2 separate regions of the Homo sapiens genome follow, and region 2 is linked to region 1. Evidence: fine-mapped expression QTL. Tissue or cell type: left ventricle. Region 1 holds a variant in brackets; the other region holds the start of a gene. All regions are shown on one strand. Distances are between the middles of the regions.

Region 1 (5,195 bases):
GCGAGGTGCTGGGGTAGGGGAGAAACAGAAAGATGACAAAGACTTGGTTGCCACACTCAAAGAGCTCACAGCCTGGTAAGCAGAAAGGTGGTCCTGCATTTGCCTCTGGACCACCAACCTAGATGAGGGAAAAGGCTCTGAGGAGTTCCATGGTAATGCTGCTTGGAAGTGAAGTCTGAAGTCAGGACTCCTGACTCCAGGATTCACATCCACCCTGTTTCATTAATGCCAATTGAAGGACACTCTTTATCTTGGGCACCCTGGAAGAAACCCCCCAGCCAGTTTCCTATTCCCTTCCCCATGGGATCTGCCTGTGTAGACAGTCCTCCGTCCTTCCCCATCATCCAAACCATTCTTGATAAATAGCTCAGATTTTGAAGATAAATGACAATAACAGCCCCACCTCATTCTGCATTATTTACAATTTTGTTCTTGATGCCTTCCAGAGCCCACTCCCAACCCAGGGCTCAGTTTTGTTTGTTTGTTTGTTTGTTTGTTTGTTGTTGTTTTGAGATGGAGTTTCACTCTGTCACCCAGGCTGGAGTGCAGTGGCGCAATCTTGGCTCACTGCAACCTCCACCTCCCAAGTTCAAGTGATTCTCCTGCCTCAGCCTCCCAAGTAGCTAGGATTACAGGCACCCGCCACCATGCCCAGCTAATCTTTGTATTTTTAGTAGAGTCGGGGTTTTGCCATGTTGCCCAGGCTGGTCTCGAACTCCTGACTGCAAGTGATCCACCCGCCTCGGCCTCCCAAAGTGCTGAGGTTACAGGCGTGAGCCACTGCACTCGGCCTCTGTTTTGTTTTGTTTTGCAAATGCCATCTATTAAGGACACCCACCTCAAATATGGTAGTGGAGAGTTTCTATTGCATGGAGCCTAATAGAATCATGTTTTCTGGCAAGGAAAAGGGAAATTAGCAAGCATGGAATGGGAGGTTTGGATGCTGTTGTTTGGCCAAGAAGCTCACTCTCACCTGCTCTACACCCAAGACTGGCAAATAACATGGTGTACCCATCACACTGGAAAAAGAGTAAAAAGGCAGATAATGTGAAGTACCAGCAGGTGTGCAAGGACACAAGCCTTCCCATGCATGACTGATGGGACAGGGATGGCTATTTCCTCTGAGAAAGAATTCTCTATTAAAATAAAAATGATAGAGCTGTTTTGCTCAGTCACCCCACATTTGGGAATCTATCCTACAGAAATCAAAATTCCAGTTTGTAAGAATCTATGTTCAAGAATATTTACTGAAGCTATTTTTGTAGTGGTAAGGAAAAAAATAGAAATAATCTTTATTTCCCTTGATAAGGAAATGTGGAATACATTTCAGCACATCTACACTCTAGAATCCATCATGCAAGTTTTTTGCTGATTTTTTTTTGTGATAAAATACACCATCTTAATCATTTTTAAGTGGCCGGCTCAATGATGTTAAACTAATTCCCAGTGTTGTGCGGCGATCACCGCCATCCATCTCCAGAACTTTCCATCTTGAAAAACCAAAGCTCTGCCCTCATTAAACACTTGCTCCCACTCCGCCTCCCCCAGCTCCTGGAAGCCACCATTCTACTTTCTATCTCAAGAATTTGACTCCTCCAGAGACCTCATATGAGTGGAATCATACGATATCTGACCTTTTGTGACTGGCCTATTTCACTCAGTATAACATCCTCGGGGTCCATCCATGTCATAATAACTGTCGAATCCCCTTCCTTCCTAGGACAGAATCATATTCCCTTGTATGGATGGACCACGTTTTGTTCACTTACCCATGGATGGACACTTCAGCTGCTTCCCCATTTTAGCTATCGTGAGTAACGCTGCTGTGAACCTGGGTGCACATGTATCTCTGAGACCCTGCCTTCAATTCTGCGGGGTAACTGCTGGATCATACAGTAATTCCATCTCTAAGTTTCTGAGAAGTGATATGGCTACTGTTTTCCACAGTGGTTGCACCATTTCACACTCCCACCAGCAGCTCTCATGCAATTATTAAGAAGAATGAGGGCCGGGCGCTGTGGCTCACGCCTGTAATCCCAGCACTTTGGGAGGCGGAGGTGGGTGGATCATAAGGTCAGGAGTTTGAGACCAGTCTGACCAACGTGGTGAAACCCTGTCTCTACTAAAACTACAAAAAATTAGCTGGGCATAGTGGTGCGTGCCTGTAATCCCAGCTACTCAGGAGGCTGAGGCAGGAGAATCACTTGAACCTAAGAGGTGAAGATTGCAGTGAGCAGAGATCACGCCACTGCACTCCAGCCTGGGCGACAGAGTGAGACTTCATCTCAAAAAAAAAAAAAAAAGAAGAAGAATGAGGCTGGGCACAGTGGCTCACACCTGTAATCCCAGCACTTTGGGAGGCTGAGGC[A/G]GGCGGATTACCTGAGGTCAGGAGTTTGAGACCAGCCTGGCCAACATGGTGAAACCCCATCTCTACTAAAAATACAAAAATTAGCCAGGCGTAGTGGCAGATGCCTGTAATCCCAGCTACTCAGGAGGCTACAGCAGGAGAATCGCTTGAGCCCGGGAGGCCGAGGTTGCAGTGAGCAGATATCACAACACGGCACTCCAGCCTGGAAGACAGAGACTCTATCTCAAAAAAAAAAAAAGAAGAAGAAGAAGAAGTAGTCAGGATTCAAGTATTGAAAGATGTCGATGTCATTGGTCAAGCTCCCAGGGTGGGGGTTTGCAGGAGGGAAGCTGGCTGGGGATGCCTTGGGAACCTGAAGAAGCAGGAACAGCTGAGCACGAGGGTCAGACAACGCCGGGGGCCGAAGCCCCGGGCTGAAGGGACCGGGCCTGGTCCCCGCATCGCTGTGCAGTGATAGCAGCTGACGGTCTCGCTTTGGGAGAAACGGGAGATAGATACACACACACTGACATTTACATTTCACTTGTGTGCGTTCGGGGAAAGCTGCGGAATGAATGGGACGGAACGACACTCTGGTCTGAGCAGGTAAAGCAGGTGCTTGGGGCCACGAGAACTTTTTTAATCACATCAAGTGGAACACGCTTGAGACAACGGTTTCGGAAGCCACGCAGGTGCGCTGCGAGATCGTTTCTACCACCTGAGAACCGTCAACAACAGAGGACTTGCCGGGCCTTGATCTCCACATCTGGAAAACAGACACGTTCTCCACCCCGCGGGCCTTTATTTCATACTAAACGGAACGACGCGCTTGAAGCACGTGGCGTGGAGCGAGCCTTCTGCGCATGCGCAAATGCTTCCTCCTCGCCCCTCTGCGCACGCGGCAGGAGCAGAAAGTCAGACAAAGAGAACGTCGTGGAGAAGAACACAAAGGGAGACAGAGACACAGAGAAAGAGAGAGACAGAGACACAGGGAGACAGAGACACAGAGAGAGACACAGAGACACAGAGAGAGACACAGAGACACGACAGAGACACAGAGTCAGAGACAGAGAGACAGAGATACAGAGACAGAGAGACACAGAGACAGAGACACAGAGAAAGAGAGAGACAGAGACACAGGGAGACAGAGACACAGAGAGAGACACAGAGACACAGAGAGAGACACAGAGAGACAGAGACACAGAGTCAGAGACAGAGAGACAGAGATACAGAGACAGAGAGAGACACAGAGACAGAGACACAGAGAAAGAGAGAGACAGAGACACAGGGAGACAGAGACACAGAGAGAGACACAGAGACACAGAGAGAGACACAGAGAGACAGAGACACAGAGTCAGAGACAGAGAGACAGAGATACAGAGACAGAGAGAGACACAGAGACAGAGACACAGAGAAAGAGAGAGACAGAGACACAGGGAGACAGAGACACAGAGAAAGAGAGAGACAGAGACACAGAGAGAGAGACAGAGACACAGGGAGACAGAGACACAGAGACAGAGACACAGAGACAGACACACAGAGACAGACACACAGAGAGACAGAGACACAGAGTCAGAGACAGAGAGACAGAGACACAGAGACAGAGACACAGAGAAAGAGAGACAGAGACACAGAGACAGACTCAGACACAGAGAGAGACAGAGACACGGAGTCAGAGACATAGAGAGACAGAGATACAGAGTCAGAGACAGAGACACAGAGACAGAGACACAGAGAGAGACAGGGACAGAAAGCGTCAGAGACACAAAGAGACAGAGACAGACTCAGAGACAGAGAAAGAGAGACAGAGACACAGAGACAGACTCAGAGACACAGAGAAGAGACACGGAGTCAGAGAGACAGAGACACAGAGTCAGAGACACAGAGAGACAGAGACACAGAGTCAGAGACACAGACAGACACAGAGTCAGAGACACAGAGAGACAGAGACACAGAGTCAGAGACACAGAGGGAGACAGAGTCACGGAAAGAGACAGACACAAACACAAAGAGAGACAGCCCAAGACACAGAGACAGAGAGAGACACAAACACAAAGAGAAACAGAGACAGACACAGAGACAGAGAGACAAGGACAGAGAAAGGATGGGGGAGGGAGAGAGGGAGCAAGAGAGTAACTCCCAGCTGATTAAACACAGCAAAGAGAGAATTCGTGAACTAGAAAAAAAAAAAAGCCAAGGAAAACCAACCAGAATGCAGCACAGACACGAACGAGAAGGAGAGTGCACAGCAGAGGGCCATGCGGATGGTGAGGGGTCCCACACCTGCGTCCTGGAGCCCAGAAGGCGGGAGCAGGGTGGGACCCTGGTGGCCACACAGCTGTTTCCCGAGGCTGCATAGCAAATCACACAGACCTGGAGGTTGAAACGACACAAATGCATCCCCAGAAGTTCTGGGGGCCGGGGGTCTGACATGGCCTCCCCGGGCTAACATCAAGGGGTCCGCAAGGCTGGTTCCTCTGCAGGCTGTCCGGGCTTCGCTTCCCGTCTTTTCCAGCTTCCAGAGGCCACCGGCTCCTCAGCTGTGGCCCCTCCTCCATCTTCAAACCCAGCTCCAAGGCCTCCTCCCTCCTCTCCCACCCTTTGTCCCCTCCCATAAGGACCCTGGTGAGACCCTGGACCCACCCAGATGACCAGGATGATTTCTCACCTCAAGACCCTCAGCCGGCCCCCTCGGCGCAGCCCTTCGCCATGACGTCATGGTGCAGGCCCCGGAATGAGGATGCAGACGGCTTCCGGGCCCTTGTTTGGCCTATCAGACATCAAGGCTGTTTAACATCTTCCTGGAGGTCCTTGCCAGCCCAGTAAGCCAGGACAAGAGGTAAAAGGA
Region 2 (5,128 bases), 35 kb before region 1:
TTGTGTGTGGGGGAGATTCTGTGTGTGTGCTGGGGATTGGGTGTGTTGGGGATTGTGTGTGTATTGGGAATTGTGTGTGTGTTGAGGATTGTGTGTGTTGGGGATTTGTGTGTGTGTTGGGGATTCTGTGCATGTTGGGAGTTGTGTGTGAGTTGGGGACAATGTGTACAGAGGATTGTGTGTTGGAAATTTTGTGTGTGCGTTGGGAATTTTGTGTATGTGTTGTGGATTGCGTGTACGTTGGGGATTGTGCATGTTGGGAATTTTGTGTGTGTGTTGAGAATTGTGTGTGAGGGAATTGTGTGTGTTTGAGATTGTGTGTGTATTGGGAATTGTGTGTGTGTTGAGGATTGTGTGTGTTCTGAGGATTGTATGTGTTGGGAATTTTGTGTGTGTGTTGAGGATTGTGTGTGTTGGGGATTCTACGTATGTTGAAAGTTGTGTGTGTGTTGGGATTGTGTGTGTGTTGTGGATTGTGTGTGTTGGGAATTGTGTGTGTGTGTTGAGGATTGTGTGCAGGGGGATTGTGTGTGTTGGAGATTGTATGTGTTGGGAATTTTGTGTGTGTGTTGGGGACTGTGTATGTTTTGGGGATTGTGTGTGTTGGGAATTTTGTGTGTGTGTTGAGGATTGTGTGTGGGGGGATTGTGTGTGTTGGAGATTGTGTGTGTGTTGGGGACTGTGTGTGTGTTGGGGACTGTGTGTGTTGGGGTGTGGTGTGTTGGAAATCGTGTGTTGGGGACACCGTATGTGTTTGGGGGAGGGTGTCAATAAGTGGTCTGGAGTGTGATATTGGGGTGCAGGCTCCATGAGTCCCCACCCCACACCTGAGCCCTGGGACCGCCTATCTGCTTCGGGGTGGGGTCCCAGGACCCTGTAGGTTCAGCCTACTAGTCCAGGCCCAATGCCCAATGCCTGCATCCCTGCAGGCCCTGTGCTCTCCAGGCTCAGACCCCTCGCAGCCCTGCAGACCCTCCCTGGGTCCATGTGTCTCTTTGCAGGTGCTCCAGCGAGTAGCAATGTGGAGAGACCATCAGGCAGCCCTGGCCTCAGTGGCCGCAGTCCCCTGGCTCCACGCTGGGCCCACCCCACCAGGTCTCCTCTCCCATGGCCCAGGGGCCTTCAGTGGGACTGAGAGGAGGAGGGAAGGAGAGTGGGTGACAGGGAAGAACTGCAGGGAGAGAGGAGAGGGGTGGGAGAAGGAGAAGGAAGGAAGGGGTAGGATGGAAGCTGGGTTTCTCCCTGTGCCCGCCCCCTACTCCAGGACATGTGTCCAAGCCCTGGCAGGTGGAATTTTGGGGGCAGGGCCTTGGTGGTGAGGAGACCTTCCAGGGGTCTGATAGCATCTCCCATCTCAGAGCCCACCTCCTGGGCCCAGCCTCCCCTCCAGCCCACACAGTGGCATTCCCAGTCCTCAGAGGACAGCTTCGTCCCACAAAGCTCAGAGCCTTGAGGAAGGCCCACTGCTGCCCTGGAACAGAGACAGCATTCAACAGAGGTTGGAACAAGGCTCTACAGGGCTGGGGGCAGAGGGAGGTTCTGTCCAGAATCTGCCTTCAGGACAAGTACAGCCAGCAGGGGCAGCTTAGCCACTTATCCACTGCCTGGGCGAGGCACAGGGCTATGGAGGCACCTACCAACCAACAGTTCTCCAGCCCCAGAGCCCCAGCCCCTGAGGCACAAGGGTGGGTGTGCCAGGAGACAGTTGCTGCGGGCCACCTTAGCTGTCTGGCAGCACAGTGGGTGCTGCCAGGCTCCCTGGGGGCCCCCCGCCAAGCCCACCTGGCCAGCTGGGCCCCCCCCACCTCCCCACCAAGCCACCCACACAGCCTCACATCTCTGAGACCCGGGAGTGGCCCTTTGTTCATAAACGAGAGCTTCCTCGCCGTGGCCGCGCCTCGCAGACATCATCTTTGATGCTCTTTTTCCACTGTTTCGGTGCTTTAATGTTTTCCCTTCAGAGCCGGGCCGAGTGTCTCTCGGAGCCAGGCAGCCGCGCCAGCTGTCAGGCGGTTTCTAGCCTCGCTTCGGTTATTTTAAGCTGATGAGCCTGACGCATCTCATCACTAATATCAGCAGTTTCATTTCTCCTGTTTTCCATTCGCTGTAATAAAATGCTCAGCACAGAATACAAGGAGATAAGCAAGCCATTTCACAAACGCCGGGCCGCCAGCCAGGCCCAGGCACTGGACCCCCTGAACCACCCCACCCTGGCACGAGTGGGCTGGAGGGCAGGGCCCCGGGGAAGAAGGTCAAGGCTGGAAGGGGAGGTCAGCCTCACAGCCAGCCCCTGCCACCGCCCCAGCCCCCCCGTCAGGCTGTTGCAGGCATCACACGGTGGAAAGATCTGGAACTGTGGCCATGGTGTGAGGCCATCCACAAGGTGGAAGCTTTGAGGGGGAGCCGATTAGCCATGGACAGTTGTCATTCAGTAGGGTCACCTGTGCCCCAGCGAAGGGGGATGGGCCGGGAAGGCAGAGGCCAGGCACCTGCCCCCAGCAGGGGCAGAGGCTGTGGGCAGCCGGGAGGCTCCCAGAGGCTCCGACAGAATGGGAGTGGGGTTGAGCCCACCCCTCACTGCAGCCCAGGAACCTGAGCCCAGAGGGGGCCACCCACCTTCCCCAGGCAGGGAGGCCCGGCCCCCAGGGAGATGGGGGGGATGGGGGAGGAGAAGGGCCTGCCCCCACCCGGCAGCCTCAGGAGGGGCAGCTCGGGCGGGATATGGAAAGAGGCCACAGCAGTGAGCAGAGACACAGAGGAGGAAGGGGCCCTGAGCTGGGGAGACCCCCACGGGGTAGGGCGTGGGGGCCACGGGCCCACCTCCTCCCCATCTCCTCTGTCTCCCTGTCTCTGTCTCTCTCTCCCTCCCCCACCCTCTCCCCAGTCCTACCCCCTCCTCACCCCTCCTCCCCCAGCACTGCCTCTGTCACTCTCGCCCACGTGGATGTGGAGGAAGAGGGGGCGGGAGCAAGGGGCGGGCACCCTCCCTTCAACCTGACCTGGGACAGTTTCCCTTCCGCTCACCTCCGCCTGAGCAGTGGAGAAGGCGGCACTCTGGTGGGGCTGCTCCAGGCATGCAGATCCCACAGGCGCCCTGGCCAGTCGTCTGGGCGGTGCTACAACTGGGCTGGCGGCCAGGATGGTTCTTAGGTAGGTGGGGTCGGCGGTCAGGTGTCCCAGAGCCAGGGGTCTGGAGGGACCTTCCACCCTCAGTCCCTGGCAGGTCGGGGGGTGCTGAGGCGGGCCTGGCCCTGGCAGCCCAGGGGTCCCGGAGCGAGGGGTCTGGAGGGACCTTTCACTCTCAGTCCCTGGCAGGTCGGGGGGTGCTGTGGCAGGCCCAGCCTTGGCCCCCAGCTCTGCCCCTTACCCTGAGCTGTGTGGCTTTGGGCAGCTCGAACTCCTGGGTTCCTCTCTGGGCCCCAACTCCTCCCCTGGCCCAAGTCCCCTCTTTGCTCCTGGGCAGGCAGGACCTCTGTCCCCTCTCAGCCGGTCCTTGGGGCTGCGTGTTTCTGTAGAATGACGGGTCAGGCTGGCCAGAACCCCAAACCTTGGCCGTGGGGAGTCTGCGTGGCGGCTCTGCCTTGCCCAGGCATCCTTGGTCCTCACTCGAGTTTTCCTAAGGATGGGATGAGCCCCATGTGGGACTAACCTTGGCTTTACGACGTCAAAGTTTAGATGAGCTGGTGATATTTTTCTCATTATATCCAAAGTGTACCTGTTCGAGTGAGGACAGTTCTTCTGTCTCCAGGATCCCTCCTGGGTGGGGATTGTGCCCGCCTGGGTCTCTGCCCAGATTCCAGGGCTCTCCCCGAGCCCTGTTCAGACCATCCGTGGGGGAGGCCTTGGCCTCACTCTCCCGGATCGAGGAGAGAGGGAGCCTCTTCCTGGGCTGCCCGTGACCCTGGGCCCTCTGTGTACACTGTGACCACAGCCCGCTCCTGGACCCTCTGTGCCCGGCTGGCCCTCTGTGCCCAGCCAGCCTGCACCTGGGGATGCCAAGGCCTGGGGAGGGTGGTTTCACCCAGGCCAAGCCTAAGACAGTCCCTCTGGGCCCTGCTGGGTACCGGGGTGTGACACCACTGGGAGGACAAGATGAGGGGCACCCCTGGGGCCGCCCTGACACCCCCTCGAGGCTCCTGCCCCGGGGGTCCTGGTGCCCCTTCACTGTGGCAGGCGACTGGGGGTTCCCCACCTCGGCCCCTCTCCCGGGGCCTGCTCCCCGGCACCTGAGGCAGCATCCTTGTCAGGGCCGTGCCTTCCTGCCTCAGCGCCACCTCTTAAGGTTGGCCCGTGGGTCACTCAGGACTCAGAACTGGAGATTCTGGGCAAAAGGCAAAGAGCAAAGGGCCAAAAGGCATCCCAGGGAGACGACTGCGGGGGAACCAGAGGGCAGAGGGGCGCTCGTCACAGGGGAGGGGGAGCTGAGCGAGGCAGGAGGGGAGCCGAGCCTCTCCCCCCGTGTCCCGGCTCTTCAGGCACGCCCTCGGGACGCCACCCTCCCCGACCCAGGCGGGAAAGATAAGAGCAAGGTGTCCGCAGCCTGACACTCGTGCCTCAGGTGCCCGCGCTTGTGCCGGACAAGACTCTCACAGGTGGCATGCCTCGGTTTCCCCACTGGTAACAGCACAGGGCACTCAGCAAGGCGCAGTGGGCATGACTGGGGTCCTGTGGGTCCTGACCCAGATGTGGCCACCCCGGCCGCAGTGGTCTTCATTCCAGGATGCCTCTTTTCCCTCCTGATCTATTCACTGCGTTCGCCATTCGGTCATTCCCGGGGCCACCACTCCCACCTCAGGTGTGTGCTTCCCTTGTGTTTTATGAGATATCCCCAACCCGGCTGCTTATTGGCCCCGTCCGAGGGCAGGAGCATAAATAAGAGCCTCTGCTTTGGCGTGGGACCACTGTGAGCTCCAGTCAGCGCTGCCACTGCTGAGCTCTGGGCCTTCGACAGGACTTGGCCCCTTACTGACTTCTCCGTGTGCTTTGGGTCATGGGTGAGGACGCCTCCTGGCAAGGCTGCGTCCTGAGGATTAAATCGGGTCATCTGTGAAAACTACCCAGCCCAGCCCCTGACACTTTTTTGTTTGTTTCTTTTAGTGACAGGGTCTTGCTCTGTCACCCAGGCTGG

What was found. PIP is the estimated chance that this variant, and not a neighbour inherited with it, causes the effect.
Region 2: PDCD1 starts here. The variant in region 1 is fine-mapped to the expression of PDCD1 in left ventricle (GTEx, PIP 0.94).

Annotation. Positions count from the first base shown.
Region 1 is chr2:241,821,954-241,827,148 of GRCh38, reverse strand. No RefSeq gene overlaps it. Among named protein-coding and RNA genes, the nearest start is that of NEU4, 15 kb to the right of the region's middle. The variant A/G (reference allele first, on the strand shown) is at 2,369.
Region 2 is chr2:241,856,785-241,861,912 of GRCh38, reverse strand. It overlaps PDCD1 (programmed cell death 1), which reads left to right and starts at 3,019. Exons shown (of 5, transcript NM_005018.3): 1 at 3,019-3,150. The coding sequence starts at 3,075. LOC124908032 (a long non-coding RNA gene) reads right to left here and starts at 2,841. Exons shown (of 2, transcript XR_007088436.1): 1 at 1,836-2,841. RefSeq lists an enhancer at 2,851-3,813.